Homo sapiens: one gene and its partner. The protein of the gene in region 1 purifies or fractionates together with the protein of each later gene. This does not show direct contact. Each region holds a gene or a part of one and is shown on either strand. Other genes may lie near its edges. The genes, in order: ABCA5 and STXBP5.

Region 1 (3,656 bases):
ATGCTTGAAGGCCAGGTACAGTGGTTCACACCTGTAATTCCGACACTTTGGGAGGCCAAGGCAGGAGGATCCCTTAAGCCCAGGAGTTTGAGACCAGCCTGGGCAACATGGCAAAACCCCATCTCTACAAAAAATACGAAAATTAGCTGAGTGCAGTGGTGCATGCCTGTAGTACCAGCTACTCAGGAGGCTGAGGTGGGAGGATCACCTGAGCCTGGGAGCTTGAGGCTGCAGTGAGCCGGGATTGTGCCACTGTACTCCAGCCTAGGCAGCAAAGTGAGACCCTATCTCAAAAACGAAAGAAACACCAAATGATGCTTGAAATTCTTGAGAACTTGATTTTTTAATTTAAAACGGTAATTTAATTTGCAAGAGTTGTTTAGGCACTTGGGAAGAATCTGTTCATTAAGTTTAAAATATTGCCTAAGTGTTTGTATGAATCAATTCATTCAAAAATTCTAAGGAAAGTGATAAATATGTAAGTAGTGTTAAATATCTGAGAGTAACTGAACCTGTTATATGTGATAATGTGTAAGTTAAAGTGATTGCTTTCTATTTACAAAAAAATACATTCAAGACAAAAAGATCTATAAACATACCTAGTTTATGTTTAAAATCTGAATGTAAATTAAAACAAAGTAATTGTCAATGTTCCTTCTGCACTTGAAAACTAGCCTCAGATACTTAAAAAAAATTACTAACAATTTTAGTGCCAGGTTTTTGCATCATTTTTAATATGAGCTACTCATTATTCAATTATCAGCACTAAATAACAAAGAATTCACTTCAGTATACAAAATGACTTGTCTTAAATTTTCAACTCTTAAAGCTTATTATTAATATAATCATATTTATTTTTCTTAAAGAGCAGCATTGAGAATTGCTTACATATATTATAAATAAAAAATAATTAAACTTTTACCTGATAAGAATAGCTGATATAAAAATTATTCATCTGAGAATAAATTCTTTCATTTTAGGAAATAAGCTATTTCAGGAAAGAAAATAAAAAATCAATGTTAGCAAATTAAAAATACATTAAGGATAAACATTTCTATTTCTCAAAAATTAATGCCTATTTACATGTTACACAAAAATACAGTATGGTATTTTAACAAACTCAGGGCACAATTAGAATGAAGTTTTGAGTAACTAACAGAACAACAATAAAAACAATAATAACAACACTTATCCTAAGTAAAATTAATTGTGCTCCTATAAAACGTTGTTAGTACTACTAGCAAAGGATTTGTCATATTATAGTTAGTTATATAAAATAATAGCTAGTTATATAAGTTATATAAGTAATATATTATATATATTTTATGTAAGTTATATAAGTATCTATCTTACAGATCTCCACGATCTTACAGGGCCAAAACTGATAGTCATCCGAGTTCTCTCCAAAGAATCCATTTCTGGAAACATAATCACTTAAAATATTTGTTAAATTACATTACTCTAAAAATGTTTTAATGATTAAAACCAAAATACTGACCTAAGATAATTTGTGCAAATTTAAAAGAAAAAAATTATTTTAAAGAAAACCCACTGTCTTTACTGAAAACAAACTAGAAAAAAAAATTAAGAGCCCACAAAAGTAAGATGTAAAGTACACTCATCATGTTTTTTCTTGCCTTATTAGTCAGTAAACACTCACTCAGTAAAGCTCAGCTTTTACTTTCCTTTGAAAATTTGACCATGAATGGGAAATATAAGGTTGGTGATGTTGCTTTTGCCTAATATGTATATTTATTTATTTATCTGTACTGACATAGAAAAAAGTTTTGAGATCAGTAATTTAAGACATTTTAAAATTAGTATGTTCATAAACATGAACTGTACACTGTAAATAAATATATTTCACTTTTTGCCTCCTTTGCTTTCCAGCTCACTTACCCTTGTTTTCCTAAGAATTAAGTTATATTTCTCCTGAGTCAGATTTTGTTACTGTGAAAAAGGGAACATAATTTAATTTAACAACCAAAATATATTCTGAGTATATAAAAACTAAAAAAAAATTTGAATGTCTTTTAAAATTGTTTACAAGAGCATGTATTCATATACATTAAAAGCAAAGTAACTAAATGAACAAAATAAATAACATGATTGTGACTACTCAACTTTCACTTTGCAGGAAAAAAAATTTACTTTGCACCAATTACACATTCACAAATGTAAAGTGAAAGTTACCAAATCTACGTGCAAAAGCAGGTAATTTTCTTCATTAGTCATGCTCTATCTTCAGATGACATAACTTTCTTAGGATGGTCAGGTTCTAAAAAAAACTATGCTTTTTCGTGACTGCCTTAGTAAACTATAGATATAATTTTGTTGCTTTTACTAAACTTAAGTATTCAAGGTTACACATAATTACAAAAGCACATCCCAAAAAAGAGGTCCCTGGGTATTTATGTGAACATTATATATACTTTAGGAAAGTGTATAGCAACTGCCCCCAGCAATGGGGGAAAATATCAGCCACGTACTTTGTACCGAGAAAGAACACTTTTAAATCCACTGCTAGAGCCTAAAATCACAGATGTCTTATTACACAATAAAGCTAAAAGTTCATTAAATTTTGCCTACATTAAAGAATGAATAATGCCACTGAAAGGTTTTGCTTATTTAAAGTAATTCAGTACCAAATCCTTCTGTCATTGCTGTTGTTGTTGTCTAATACAATAATCACACTCTCAATATATTTGTTTTATGAAGTTAATACTTTCATTTGGTTGAAATGTAATGTCAACTAGCATTATTTACACTATTTTATACCTTGAGCCAATACATGGGTTGTACAAGGAAGTATTTCTAAGAAAATATTAGCCATGCCTTTAACTCTATCAAAAATGAAATTCTGGTTCTTATTAAAAAGAAATAGGCGCACTGCACTTACAATTCTTAATTTAACCCTTGAAAGAGTTTATTCATATCCTACCATGTTCCAAAGTCAATGAGGTAAGTTACTAAATAAATCTACACACTGATCTACTTACAATTTTATAGAAGAGATTCACTAAAGTTTACCAATAAAAACAAATACCCAATAAAATATTTTATTCAAGAACAAAATTAAATGTGCCCTTTGCAAGGAAGATGACAAAAAATTTATATGTTCCAAGAGTGATGAAGGAAAAGGTATGGCTTAATTCTACCACCTCCATAGATAACTGTCATTCTAGCCACAGAGTCAAAGAATCAGACTATTACGTAAGATTCTACACACAGTCTTCCTTTAATTATAATAACTAAAACCTTCTGAATTTTACTTTAAATTAAAGAAATGTAATTTCACATACCTAATTACCTAAGCCTAAAATCATGTACTAGAACAAGGGCTCATTTCACTTATTATGATCAATGACTGCCACCTAGTGGATATAACTTTCCTCAAATCTCTATATTGAGATTTCCTAGTGCTTACACTTCAGCTTTTACGGATGACAACTTCCATTCAAAGTGGCTTTTTTAGAAATTAAAAAGGAGAAGCAAGAAACTTTCACATTGCTTTATGTATCTTTTCTATGCATTAGTTATGAATTAGTTTTTTATTTAGATTGGAACATTACGTACTTATTTAAGAAGATGGCATAAACTTAAAGATAACTTAAAAATAAAACTATTCTATTACAATTCCTTTAAATCACAAATTC
Region 2 (3,833 bases), on another chromosome or scaffold:
ACAAATATATATATATGTATAGATAGATAGATAGATAATGCCTCAAGTTTTATTTGTCACTTAATGTGCTATCTTCAAAATGCTAATAGAAGTTTTAGGATGGACTATTGAACTGTGTTACTAAGTGAAGTCTACTATACATAGTAAATACTACGCAGTCATACCTTTATAAACGACAAAATCTGACCAGGCTAGATCTGAATCTGTTAATTTCTGAGACGGTGTGTCTGAAGTGCTCTTGCCCAAATATCTAGATAGTTATGACCAGAATGTTTTTTGGCTTCAATTGTTAGATATTTTTATTCCTGAACTCAGTGATCAAGACCATCTAGTTTAGGGTTGTGTGAAGACGGGAATGAAGTTATTTTGTCAGTGTGGGCCCTGAGTGTTCAGCAAAACTCTGTAGTGACGAGACTAGTACAGCGTTGGATCTAGATGCATTCTTTGGAACTGAAAGCAGTTTCTTTTTTTTCCCAACAAGATAATTTCATAACTGGACTAGAAGAAGGAAAGTAAAGTTGAATTAAATCAGCTATTTTTCCCTTATTTTGCTTTTCTGTAAAATGAGTTTAGGTTTTATTGTTTTCCCAGTGTGGTCTCGACATTCTTTTGGTAAATAACCTCTTTTCCTTGTAACATCCAATCTGGCCCTTTTATAATTTAGTATAATTATAAGTGAGTACCACCAGCAAGGCTGATTTTATAAAACCAGATTCTTAGACAACACTTTTACCCTAATGCATTTGTGTAATTAGCAAGTTGGCACAAAAGGTGTAAAGCGTTAGGCCTAGTGTGAATTGCCAATTAAAATCAAGGATCAGGTGGCCAAAATTGTCACTTGTATATAACTTTTGGTGTACTTTCTATAGTTAAATATTATGTGAATAAAAGTGAACCTGTAATTATAGTTTGCAATTATACTCTAAAGTTTTTTTTTAGAACCTCCTTACTAAGAATGAAGTATGGAAAACTGTTTACTAAATTACCTTCTACTTTGCCTTTTTATGAGATTTCTATGGACATTCCAGAGTGCTAAATTGGCTTGCTTGCCAGTAATACCACCTAGTCATTCCTTCTGTTGGGTTTAAGTAGCAGATGAGCTTATGAGCTTTATTTATTATGGTTCTGATTTATAGAAAATGACTAAGCCCTTTTTATTTTATCTCATTTTCCATATATGTGCTTTCAGGTATATGTTAGTGTCTCTTTCTTTGTTATTTTTGAAACTGGACACCTAAATTCCGAATCTCCACATTTGGTTAACGTGCAGATTTACTACAAGTGTGTATATTTTGACTTGGATCTTTTGTATATTTTCCTATTGTAATTGGTTTCTTTTGATCCTTTATTCTCTTCTTGTATTAGACTCTTGTAGTCTGTAACACAGTTATCCTAAAAGATATCATTAGAGCAGAAAATAGACTTCTAGATAAAGTATTTTCCTTGCAGATTGAAAAGTAGGCGATGTTTTCAGAAGTAAGATTAGGCTATTACAATTCCAAATGTGTATGTAATTTGACTGATGAATATCTTCCTAAATGTTAGAAGACTTTACTAAATTGATTTATCTACTCTGGGTTAAAACCAAAAAATCAAAGAAGAAAGATATATCTGATAGCTAATGTTTGTAGACAAGGATTAGTGAAAAATCTTAATCCTTTAATAATACATAACAAATTATGAGGCAAAATAAATTAAATGTATTTACTACATTAATGTATAGCAAATGACATATGATATAAATATGCTGAATGCTAAACCTTCTTGGCTTCTGGAGAGAATATGAGATTGAAGAATGAAGGTATTTTTAATAATGTTACTGTCTTTATCTAGACTTCTGATTTACTACTAAAATTTCAAATTGCTTCATACTTTAATCATGGGTTACCCTGATCTTATTTTTAAAGTAAATTTTTTTTCTAAACACAATGAGGTCATTATATATATGAATATTTCAAGGACTGAGCAGAAAAATGGAATTTCAGGTTTACTGAACTTGTGTAAAAATTTGAGGTTTAAAAATGAATTGTCAAATTATTATCGAAGAACCTCATTCATTGTCTTCTTGACTGGTGGAAAATACAGTGAAATAGACAATCTCTGTTTTGATGAGGCATGGATTGTCTTTTAATGCAGAGTAATGTTGCTGGAGACAGGCTTACAAAGTGATTTTTTTACCTTACAGTTGATTTAACAAGCACTTGAGTGTCAGACAACATTAGATTATAAATTGTGGCCTGAATTCTGGTTCTTCGCTTTCCACTAAATAATTACATGTCCTTGAATTAGTTTTTTTTTTCCTTACTATAAAAATGAAGGTGCAGTATTAAATGATTTCTTCAAGGAAGAATTTTATGATTTCAAGTAGCTATGTATTCTAGAGGAGTAATACAAAAGAAATGAAAATGTGATCCTTCCTTCAAAAAGTTTCCAGTTCTAACCAAAGGACTGGAACTAAATAAGCAGTTGAAATTTGAGAATTATTTGGGGCTCTACTGACATTACACAAAGTCAGGTTACATGTAAATTTGTTGCATTTGATGAACATTTCTATACATTGGTAGATAAGTATTCAGAATGACAGGGAGGAAGGAGTGGGAAAATTATTCTAGGCAAGGAAAACAGTATGGGCAAAAGCATGGAAAAGGGAATTATGCGAGTTTGGAGGAATACTAATGAGGCTAGTTGGAATAATTGAGTTAGCAGGAGAAATAAGGAGGCTGTTGAGGGTCTGCAATTTTAACCTGAGGTATCTGCATGATATTCAGTTAGGAATCATAGTTATGTAATAGGAGATGCTGACAGGAAGAAAGCATGATTTTTTAGCATGATTAGTGGAGTAGTGGTATAGGTGAAAAGAATGGACCAAGTGAACTTCACAGAAAATTATTAATCCATATAGGTAGTAAAGTGAATCCAAAACAGGGGTGGCAGAATGGGAATTGGAGAAGGGCTTGACTTGTTTGTATAAAATCTTAGGGAGTAACTAAAGATGATAAGGTTTTGCAAGTAAAGTAATGAGGCAATTACAAGCGAAGTGAAAAACTTGGCAAAGAAGTGGCAGAGAAATGTTGAGTTTGAAATTATGTTATCTTTAACTTTTATTGTATTATCATTTTGGGAGAGTAGCCTAGACTTCTTATTTTAGTGTGAGAATTTGATATACTTTCACTGTTTTGTTTTGGTTTTTTTTGGCTGGTCCTTGGTGATTTCCAGAATTTTGTTACTGAATTTATATTTAAGGTCATTAGTAGCTGTTTGGCATTGTCCATTTATTTTCTGTCAGTGTTTCTCAAAGTGGTAGCTTTTTGGGCAGAATAATTCTGTGGGTTTGTCCAGCACATTGCAGGATATTTAATATCCCCGTCTCCCACCTACTAAATGCCCATGTTGCCTCCCCTGTCAGTGTGGCAACCCAGACCCTCCAACACACTTCCAGGTGCCCCTGGTTGAGAACCACTGCATTTAGCCCAAGTTCTTCACCAGTTAAATAAGAATAATAACCCTACCTAGCTTGTGAGGTTATTGTCACGATTAAATCTAATAAAATGTGTGTGTGTAGCTTTTACGATCATGAAGGGATATTGTGGTGGATACATGATTATTACATTATTATTATAATACATGATTATTATTAATATGAGAGTTTTTCTGTGGCTTTAATTTTCAGGTCCTTCATTTCTCTCAGCGAATACTGAGTGGCAACTGTGTAGGAAGGACTTCATTTCATTTATTTTTGTAGCTAATACAAACTTTGAGGAAAAGATACTGAAAAGCACTGTTCTTTTCTTTGAGTTTGTTTTTAAAATGGTTGTGTTCAGCCTGGCACAGAG

Evidence for each region.
Region 2: the proteins of ABCA5 (region 1) and STXBP5 fractionate together in Homo sapiens (co-fractionation; one large-scale study listed by BioGRID). This does not show direct contact.

Annotation. Positions count from the first base shown.
Region 1 is NC_000017.11:69,243,607-69,247,262, forward strand, and holds the end of ABCA5 (cholesterol transporter ABCA5), read right to left. Parts: 3' UTR 705-3,656; downstream 1-704. UniProt on the Homo sapiens protein: Cholesterol efflux transporter in macrophages that is responsible for APOAI/high-density lipoproteins (HDL) formation at the plasma membrane under high cholesterol levels and participates in reverse cholesterol transport.
Region 2 is NC_000006.12:147,207,212-147,211,044, forward strand, and holds part of STXBP5 (syntaxin-binding protein 5), read left to right. Parts: intron 1-3,833. UniProt on the Homo sapiens protein: Plays a regulatory role in calcium-dependent exocytosis and neurotransmitter release. Inhibits membrane fusion between transport vesicles and the plasma membrane.